Regions from separate parts of the Homo sapiens genome. Here all the other regions are reported to be linked to region 3. Evidence: microRNA targets listed by miRTarBase, many of them from high-throughput screens and not tested one by one. Region 3 holds a microRNA gene; each other region holds the end of a gene's coding sequence.

The links. Region 3 holds the annotated microRNA hsa-miR-6822-3p (AGGCUCUAACUGGCUUUCCCUGCA, at 1,165-1,188, shown strand). A microRNA usually pairs through its seed, bases 2 to 8, with sites in the 3' UTR of a target mRNA and lowers its output. Matches are read on the target gene's strand: a 7mer-m8 pairs with bases 2 to 8, a 7mer-A1 pairs with bases 2 to 7 and ends in A, and an 8mer does both.
Region 1: the mRNA of GOLGA7 is a reported target of hsa-miR-6822-3p. Seed matches in the 3' UTR shown: 7mer-A1 at 3,247-3,253.
Region 2: the mRNA of SLC35A1 is a reported target of hsa-miR-6822-3p. Seed matches in the 3' UTR shown: 7mer-m8 at 534-540.

Annotation. Positions count from the first base shown.
Region 1 is chr8:41,506,433-41,509,691 of GRCh38, forward strand. GOLGA7 (golgin A7) reads left to right here. Exons shown (of 5, transcript NM_001002296.2): 4 at 627-689; 5 at 3,152-3,259. The coding sequence ends at 674. Among named protein-coding and RNA genes, the nearest start is that of GOLGA7, 17 kb to the left of the region's middle.
Region 2 is chr6:87,511,044-87,514,291 of GRCh38, forward strand. SLC35A1 (solute carrier family 35 member A1) reads left to right here. Exons shown (of 8, transcript NM_006416.5): 8 at 356-1,293. The coding sequence ends at 483. It overlaps RARS2 (arginyl-tRNA synthetase 2, mitochondrial), which reads right to left. Exons shown (of 20, transcript NM_020320.5): 20 at 2,895-3,248. Among named protein-coding and RNA genes, the nearest start is that of SLC35A1, 40 kb to the left of the region's middle.
Region 3 is chr3:39,137,078-39,140,336 of GRCh38, forward strand. It overlaps MIR6822 (microRNA 6822), which reads left to right and starts at 1,129; the gene lies at 1,129-1,189. TTC21A (tetratricopeptide repeat domain 21A) reads left to right here. Exons shown (of 29, transcript NM_001366900.1): 25 at 118-310; 26 at 409-633; 27 at 1,190-1,310; 28 at 1,479-1,546; 29 at 1,634-1,823. The coding sequence ends at 1,711. RefSeq lists an enhancer at 1-70.

The DNA.
Region 1 (3,259 bases), not on the chromosome of region 3:
AGCTGCCAGATGTGTAATTTCATTACCTTTGACATACTGTGCATATTTTTAGAGGCAGTAAGCTTTGAAAATCACTAAGTGAATTTGGTAAATAAAATTGCAAAAAACTAATTTAGCTTGATAACTGGAGTAATGGGTAAATAAATTTTTTTAAAAACCTAGGTCACATAATCCCAGGCCTTCCAGCTGATAATAATTTCAGCAGTTTTGTTATACTCTGCAACAATAGTTCTTAAACTTTCAGGGGTCATGAACCCTTTCCCAAGAAAAAAGTTTTCATATAATTTCAGGGTATTTTTAAATCCCTGAATTCATTACCTCCATGGATTCTCAGTTAAGAACTCCCTAGTTCAACAAATAAAGCATCGTTTTCAGAATTTATTTGTTTTGTTTTCAAAACATAAGTTATCAGTGTTTGGGAAGGAACTACATGTGGACTACTATAATTACATTTCTTAAAATTTTCAGCAAATTGGAGAAAGCAAACTTAAGTAGGAAAAATGTTTAATAATTGAAAAATAAAGCAAACTGAAAGCAAAGTCTGCAGATCACACCCTCCACCTTGCCAAGTCCCCCTTTGTGTGTTGTGTCCTGTAGTGTGTTTTCTTAACAGCCATGCTGTTTAGATTGAAATTACCATTTATGAAGACAGAGGCATGAGCAGTGGAAGATAAACCGAAGAATTAAAGGTAAATATGAAATGATATGGCTTGTATGCAGCTTTTGCAAGTTTAGAGGATGCATGAATATTCTTCCCCGCATGGTAAATAAATCATTAAATCACGCAGTTAAATAACAGTATATTTGCTGTGTTAGCTTAAGCTAGTCACTGTATTAGCTTGATATTTAAAATGTGTATTCGGCCCAAGTTCTATTTGGTGATAGAGAATTTAATTCTGATTTTTTTTCCTGCTGTATTGTGTTCAGACTGGTTTTGTTGTTACTTTGGTGGGGGAATGGGGGATGGCAGTTACTTGGCTTGTTTTAATATTTCAAAACTATCCTAGACATATAAATACTTGGGTTTTGCATATAAGAATGAGTTCAGAGATGTCTACCTATATGACAAATGGCTTTAATAAGCAAAGGAACATTTCAGAGGGGAGTGGGGAGATTCTGAATATTTCATTTATTATGTTTAAGTGGCTTCAGACCCCTGTGGAAGAAACCTTACCTACTGAGTAGAAACATAAATTTCATTCCTTTGTTTAAAGTATTAATGTCCTTAAATATCCAGATGCTGCCCTTTAATGAGTAAGAAACAAATTAATACTACTAAGAATCTCTAGGCAGAGTCACGTTGAAGCCCTAAGTACTTTAGCATAGCCTTCTAAGTGACAGGAAGTAGCACTTCACTATTTCTGCCAATTTTAGTTACGTGGTCTTCCTACAGAAAGTGTTCTGCTGCTGCGCTTTTCTAGTTGACTGTGCTTATAGGTATCTGTCACTAATTAATAGACAGCACAGACACAGAATGTACCAAAGCAGACACATGTCTTCCTAGGGCAACATCAATAACAGCTACCATTTTGAGGGCACGTACTATGTGCCTGGTATTGTACAAATGGTACTTCTGAATCTCACAAGAACCCTACAAAGTATTTCCCCATTTTATAGATGAGCAAACTTGGATACAAATAGATTAAATGATGTTCTCACAGTCACACAGTTAACGAGTATTGGGATATGAACCCAAGTCTGATTGATCATAAAACCCCTGTCTTTTACACCGTACTTCCTCTCAGTACTTGCAGCAGCAGGAACATGGAGAAAGGGAAGAGTTCATCAGATAATTCTAGAGGTTTATCCCCTTCTCTTCTTTTTCAATACTTTAAAAAAGAATACATTTTGTCTGCTCCTGTATGATTTATTCAATCCTGTAAGCCATGCAACATTCCAGAGCTGCCTTCTTTAGCACTAGTGAATGTGTCACCTGAATTCCTGAAAGCCAAAGATCTAAATCATGATATCTATCCTCTGCCATATGTTGTATTTCCTTAAAAAGGCTTTGTTTTGGAATACTTAGTGTTACTTGTCCATACGCTTTCTCATGTACAATTTTCAAACTGATACTTCTCAAACAACCAGCAACCTTCTGTGTGGCTTTTGTTCCATGCCATGGTTTGTATATCAGTTGCAGCTGCGATGACTTGGCACAGCCCATTTGTCATGACTCATTTTGCAGCTATTGTGTAATCATGTGTTTTTCTGATGTGTGAGGTTTGAGCAATTACACACCAGAGGCTAATCTATCAATATTCAAATAACTAGAATTTTGAAATGGGAAAGATTTACATTAATAACTTCTGGATACCCTCTTTCATGAATGCAGATATTTTTGTTCAACACAATTTCGTTTTGGGATTTGGGTGTTCCCAAGGTCCAGGATGCAATGTGAGCTGAGATCTTAGAGAAGGGGAGGAAACTCTAAGCATAATTTATTCAATTCTTCCATTTTTCTTCAGTCTGCAAGGTGTCTGCAATTTGAAGCAATATGTGGGAATTAGTGACTTAACAAAAGACTACACAAACATGAGGATGGCCTTTATTTTTAAAAGGAGCTTTAAACAAAAATGCCTTTCTTTAAGCTTAATTTTTATAATATCTTGCATATATCTTTATTATCACATTGTTATTGTTACATGCACTGGTGTTTTCTCTCTGGATTAAGATTGCCATCTTTATATAAAATGGAATACATGATTATTCCATCACAACTAGTGATAATAAAAACAGCTAATGTTTGTTGGCACATCTGTGCCAGCACTATTCTAAATGCTTAATTTTAATCATCACAACAACCCTATGAGGTAGATATTGTTATCCCTGTTTTTCAGATGAGGAAGCCGAGGCAGAGAGAACTTAAGTTGCTGGCCCAAGGACAAACAGCTAGTAGACAGCAGTCAAGGCAGCGTGGCTCCATGGTGATGTGCTTGGTCAGAGATCTGAATATATAGGACTTAGATTTGTAGACTATTGAGCTGTAGACTCATTTAGACAAATGGTACCAAGATATTTTAGTAGATAAAATTCTAGGTTAGTAGAACATAGACCACATGTTATAAGCTGATATCAGTTGATGGAAGAAAAATGGTTTTACAAGTTATTTTCAGGATCTCTATCAAACCTTTACTTCTCCCTCTAATTACAGATCCCACTTCCAGCCGGGCCCCTCATGTATCCACTGGCCGACCGCAGAGTGTCCCTACCTCCTCTCCAGAGCATCATTCCTTTCTATCTGCTGCCAGAGCCACGGTGC
Region 2 (3,248 bases), not on the chromosome of region 3:
CACATTTTCTTTTGTACTTATATATATTTATACTTACATTTAAAAAAAATTATATATTTTATAGGGAAATTAGTTATGTTCTTTGTCAGAGTGGTCAGATAGTGTCAGTTAGGCATACTCATGTTCTAAAAAGTCTGTAATCAGTGATCAACAAAACACTGCCTTGATTTTACCCGCCCTGCCTCCCCCTCTCCTTTTTTTTGGCTGTAATGGAAGACCTTTCTAAACCTTGCCATCATAAAAATATGATCTGATAGTGTAAACCCACAATTAAGAGTTTTCAAAATTTTAAACTGATCATTAGGCATTTTAAAGACACACATACAGATAAAGCTATTTTTTTTTTTCTTTTCAGCACTCACCTTTGCCCTGGGTACTCTTCTTGTATGTGTTTCCATATATCTCTATGGATTACCCAGACAAGACACTACATCCATCCAACAAGGAGAAACAGCTTCAAAGGAGAGAGTTATTGGTGTGTGATTTTAGCCTCACGTGAGACTCCTTTTAAGACTAAACCATTTGCATTAAACTAGAGCCTTAAGTCAATCTCAGAAGGTAGCATAAACAAATAAAAATTAACTGTATGGCATGATCAGTGCGGTTATGTGGAAACAACAACAAACAAACGAAGCTATCTGAGTGAACTGCTAATACAGAAACTTAATGTAGACCTGTTTGGGGTCTACTATTGTTTTAGAATGAAGGAATTGTATTATTGTGTGTATATATAATTTGTAAATAAAAAGTATGGAGATGATACGGTGTTAAAAAAAATCATGGTAAGGCTACAATACTCAAGTAACAAGGTTTGGGACAATGTCTAAGGGTTAAAGTGCCAAAGCCATTTCTGTACTAACTGTTCTCTTGTTCCGGTACCGGGGAGAAGGATGACCCCTCCTTATTCTCCAATTCATGTACAGTATTTTGTCCTAGCAGCATAAAGACCTAGCTCTTTTCTTACAAGAGGCAGAAACAAGACAGGCTAGTTCATAAACAAACTGTGTAACTTCTCAAAATGAATCTATTTCATAACTCGGACAATTTCTGGGTGGTGACTGAGTACCCCTTTAGTGAGTACCCCTTTAGTGCTATATTTGTGCCATTCATTATCTGGTTCATATTTCTTTTCTGTTAGATGATACACATTTCTTCAAAAAAATTTCTAATGTCACTTTTGTACTTTTTTAAATAAAGTATGTTTAACTGTTGGGCTCTCAATAATTTGTGAAATTTCAGTGTTTTCTATAATGTTAATGGGGAAATTCAGCAATAAACTTTATTTGTAAGAAAGAATTGTTTAATCACTTTATATTATAGATATGACCATTAAGATAATGCACTTTTATTTTCTATATGTAGAAATGCACTTTTATTTTCTATATGTGGAAGTCTATCGGTTAGGGTTCTCTGGCTGCAAATCAACTCAACTCTGGCAAGCCTTAAGCAAAAAAGAAAGAATTTTTAAGAAGGTCCACAATCAGGGCTACAGGCGTCTAGGTTCTAAGAATTAATGGACAGTTGTCTTTTCAGCTTTTGTAAAGATCTGGCTTTACCTATTACTGTTCCTGTATGGTTTCACTCACGATTCAAATACTCGGGAAGACACTACTGATCTTGGAAGGGGAAAGTTTCTTCAAACAAGTAGAGAGGGATATTGGATGTGTAAAACATGTCCCTACTTTATATTTTTATCCCATGGCTGGTTTATGCTAAGAAAAATGTGACACTACTTTAAGTCGAAAATTAGCTATCTGGGAGCTAATTCACTTAAATTGGAACTGCAAGGCTGAATCTTTTCTAGGACTAAGAAGGTAAGCCATAGTTGCTAATATGAAACAATTTTCACTCTAACTAGAGAAGCTTCAGTTGTGCTAACTTGGTAAATAGACCGTCACTGGTATTCAAAAGCCTACTATTAGCAACATTTAGAATAAATTATAGCAGACCTGAATGGAAATGCTGGCTGATGGGAATGGCCGTACTGATCAAACACATCACATCCTACTCTTGTTTCCTAAGCCATGCTCATGTTATCTAATGAAGCCACACAAAAATATGAAGATAGATACATGAAGGAAACCATAAGAAACTCCATTTCAAATTATGGTTGAATTAATGGACTACATTTTACAAAAAGATCCTAATTCAACGTCTTTACAAGTAATTCCTTCCTATTAAAATGTATTTAGTTCCTGAATTCACACAATAAGAGTTACCTGTGTGTGTGTGTGTATATATATATATATATATATATATATTTTTTATTTATTTTTTTTGAGACAGAATCTCGCCCTGTCGCTCAGGCTGGAGTGCAGTGGTGCGATCTCGGCTCACTGCAAGTTCCGCCTCCTGGGTTCACGCCATTCTCCTGCCTTAGCCTCCCGAGTAACTGGGACTACAGGCCCCGCCACCACGCCTGGCTACTTTTTTTGTATTTTTAGTAGATACGGGGTTTCACCGTGTTAGCCAGGATGGTCTCGATCTACTGATCTCGTGATTTGCCCGCCGCAGCCTCCCAAAGTGCTGGGATTATAGGCATGAGCCACCACGCCCAGCCCTGTATATATTAACTCAAAGGGAAGCACGAGGTCTATTGTCTCTAGGAGTAGCTGTCAGCTATATTGACAGAACGGTGCTTATTTTTGATCTCCCTATGTTTACTCCAAACTAGCCACAATTACAAGAAAATTGATAATATTTTCCCCTCACCAATTCTTTTATTTCATGAAAACATTAAATCATTTCAGTTATAAGAATAGTTTCTGGAAGAATGACATGGTAAGAAACTTCAAGCCAAAGTTTAAACTCAAATCCTTTAGCCCCATTAGACCACAATGCTTTGGGTTTAAAAAACTCAATGTCTATTTAAATACCTACTGACCATGAGAGAATTCAGATAACTCATTTATTTAAGGATAAAGACTGAATAACTTGACAAGTCACATTTAATACAGATTCTGACACAGAATAATAGTTTAACTTTGGCTGGGCGTGGTGGTTCATGCCTCTAATCCCAACACTTTGGGAGGCCAAGGCAGACAGATAACCTGAGGTCGGGAGTGCAAGACCAGCCTGACCAACATAGAGAAACCCTGTCTCTACTAAAAATACAAAATTAGCCTGGCGTGATGGCACGTGCCTGTAATCCCAGCTACTCAGGAGGCTGAGGCAGGAGAATTGCTTGAACCTGGGAGGTGGAGGTTGCAGTGAGCCAACATCACACCATTGCACTCCAGCCTGGGCAA
Region 3 (3,259 bases):
CAGGGGCGGAACCCTGGGGAAGTTACAGAAAGCCTGCAACCTCTGGGTTGAAGCCAGGTGAGGGCCACACGGGCAGGCCACCGGCCTGTGTCTGATACCCAGGTCTAACACCTGCAGCTACATGGAGAAGAAGGAGTTGGAGCAGCAGGGTGTGAGCACCGCCGAGAAACTGCTGCGTGAGTTTTACCCACATTCAGACTCCAGCCAGACCCAGCTGCGGCTGCTGCAGGGCCTCTGCCGGCTGGCCACCAGGGAGAAGGCTAACATGGAGGCTGCGCTGGGCAGCTTCATCCAGATAGCGCAGGCTGAGGTGTGGCTGGTGGGGACTGGCGGGCATGGGCAGGTGGCAGGGCCGAGAAGACCAGGCGGCCAACACGTGCTGACGTCCACTTCCTACCTGGTGTGTAGAAGGACAGCGTCCCTGCCCTGCTGGCCTTGGCACAAGCCTACGTGTTCCTGAAGCAGATCCCCAAGGCGCGTATGCAGTTGAAGCGCCTGGCCAAGACCCCCTGGGTGCTGAGTGAGGCTGAGGACCTGGAGAAGAGCTGGCTCCTGCTGGCTGACATTTACTGCCAGGGCAGCAAGTTCGACCTCGCCTTAGAACTGCTGCGGCGCTGTGTGCAATACAACAAGGCAAGGAGCCACACACACACTAGGGCTGCGGGATGGCGGAAAGGATTCTAGGCATTCCAGGAAGGTGAAGCAGGCTTTGCAGGTAGAGGCCATATGGAATAAGAACTAGTCGGGAAGAGGCAGGCTGAGAGGGGCACATGGGCGACAGACCAGAATAGGAATGAGGATCAAGGGCGATGGACCAGGTGAGAGGAGGTGCACAGGGGTCGTGTTATGTCCAGAGGAGGGAACACTAAAGGACAGAAAGAGATGGGAAAGCTTCATGGGTTCCAAGCTGGAGGGACTTTTGCAGGTCAGAGCAGGCCAGGAATGGGAGTGGCGGAACAGGAGGGCTACAGGGAAAGGGGTTACGCCAGTGTCTGGGGTAGCTGAGAGGAGGGCACACAGTTGGCTTCTTGCAAAGGTTGGGGTACCCCTGGGGTCCCTTGGCAGTTTGGTTTATGGCAGCTCACTTCTGTCCCTTGCCTGCTTCTGGTTCTGGTCCCAGTCCCACCCTGGCCCAGGGAACCAGTTGGGGCTTCCGCTCTGCAGAGGCTCTAACTGGCTTTCCCTGCAGTCCTGCTACAAGGCCTATGAGTACATGGGCTTCATCATGGAGAAGGAGCAGTCCTACAAGGATGCAGTCACCAACTACAAACTGGCCTGGAAGTACAGTCATCACGCCAACCCTGCCATTGGTAAGGCAACCAGCCAGGGTGCACGTGAATGGACGTGGGAGGGAGGTGGGCAGGAGGGCCCCCACCATGACCCCAGAACTCAAGGCCTGTACCCTGGCTGTTATGAGAACCAGAGGGGTTCTCAGGTCACCAGGGTGCCACCATCTTTGCTCTCCATGTCCCCGGTAGGCTTCAAACTTGCTTTCAACTACCTGAAGGACAAGAAATTTGTGGAGGCCATTGAAATCTGCAACGATGTAAGCCAGCAGCCTTGGTGGGGAGGGCCTGGTGTAGTGGTGGGGAAACCTGCATGATACTGCACACCCATTCTCTCTCTGTTCCAGGTCCTCAGGGAGCACCCCGACTACCCCAAGATCAGGGAGGAAATTTTGGAAAAGGCCCGAAGGTCCCTGAGGCCCTAGCTGGGGTCAAGGGGCCTGGACCAGTAGAAGCCATCAACCTACTGAAGTTGTGTGGAGGGATGGAAAGTGGGTCAGTGGAGAAGGGATTCAGAAAATGACACATTCTTCCCCATTTCTATAGTGTATGTGGTTTATTTTGAGTCATGTCTCATCTGACCTAACTTTATGTTTTTAAGGCACAAGAAATTTTGCTCTGGGAAGAAAGACATCAACTGGCTTAACTTTTGCTGGGCTCATTGGGCGCTTTCTAACAGACCTCGCTTTTATCCCAGACTCTTTGAGGGGGCGGAGGGGAGCAAAGAGGGGGCTCCTAGTGGAATGGTGGTTGAAAAGAATCCCCTTCAGCTGTTTTTCAATGGTTGTTGCCCCTCTCCTGTCTGGTCTCCAGGATCCTGGAGCTAAAGAAGCAGATACTTCTCCCTGCCATGCTACCCTGAGTCTGCCTGGCGGTGGGCCCAGGATGCTGTGGGCAGTGGGCCCAGACAGGAGGATTAACTGCAGAAGGCCCGCACAGCTAAGGCCCTGTGTGAGAGGGCCTGCAGGGTGCAAGAGCCATTGTCCCACCCTGTCCATGCATTGTTTCCCTTGCCCCTGCCCCCCGCACCCCCACTCCCCGCCAAGTCCAGCTGGCTTCTTCTAGTCCTTACCAGTTTGGGACAAACCTGACTACCCTCGCCTGGCACAAGGAAATACATGCCAAGAAAAAATAGTTCCCACTTCAGCTTTTACAAAATACACTGCCTATCTAACATCCTACAGAAACCCTTTTAATGTCTAAGGGGGCAAATGCAGTGGTTCCTATTTAGATGAATAATGTTAACTGCAACTGGCAAGAGGGTGACAGAGGGCACCTTTGCTGTGCTCCCAATACCAGTCTTCCTTGATGTCATTAAGGATGCCAATAATGGGACAGTCTGGCCTCAGGACAATCAGGAAGCCTAGGATCTCCCAATGTGGCTTTCCCGGGTCCCTTCCCCTCTCTGGGTCTTAGTGTCCCCATTTGTGGCAGGAAATTAGATGTCTCCCAAATCATGGCACAACTCTCTGCCAGTGATACACAGCAAACATTTTAAAGTTTAATAACTATGTGTTTTTAAAAACACATCATTTTTACATGGAAAACCAACTAGCACAGAAAAGTCAGGAATTTATGGGTGCTGTTCCATGGGATGGGTTTAACTTTTAAGCATACTGATATAATTGATTTAAAGAAAAATTATTTAGAGTAAGTAGAATGCAGATATGATATGGGCAGAGTTTTCAAGAGCAGTTGTCCAGTGACTAAGGTTTGGGAACAGTGGACAGATAAGGGTCCCTTTGGAACAGTGTAACTCGGATGGTGCTGAGCCTTGTTTTTATAACACACTGCTGATCACATACATGGTTTGTTGATATGAGCTGGGGATCTGGAATGCTTTCTCCAGGTTACTACCATTTTTCCTACGGGAAAACCCAGTCCCCTTTCTGTGATCTGCTTTACAACCCAGTTTTGTTGGGACAGGTTTGTTGACAGGTCTATCTATATGGAGAATGATCCTGTAAAGGGAT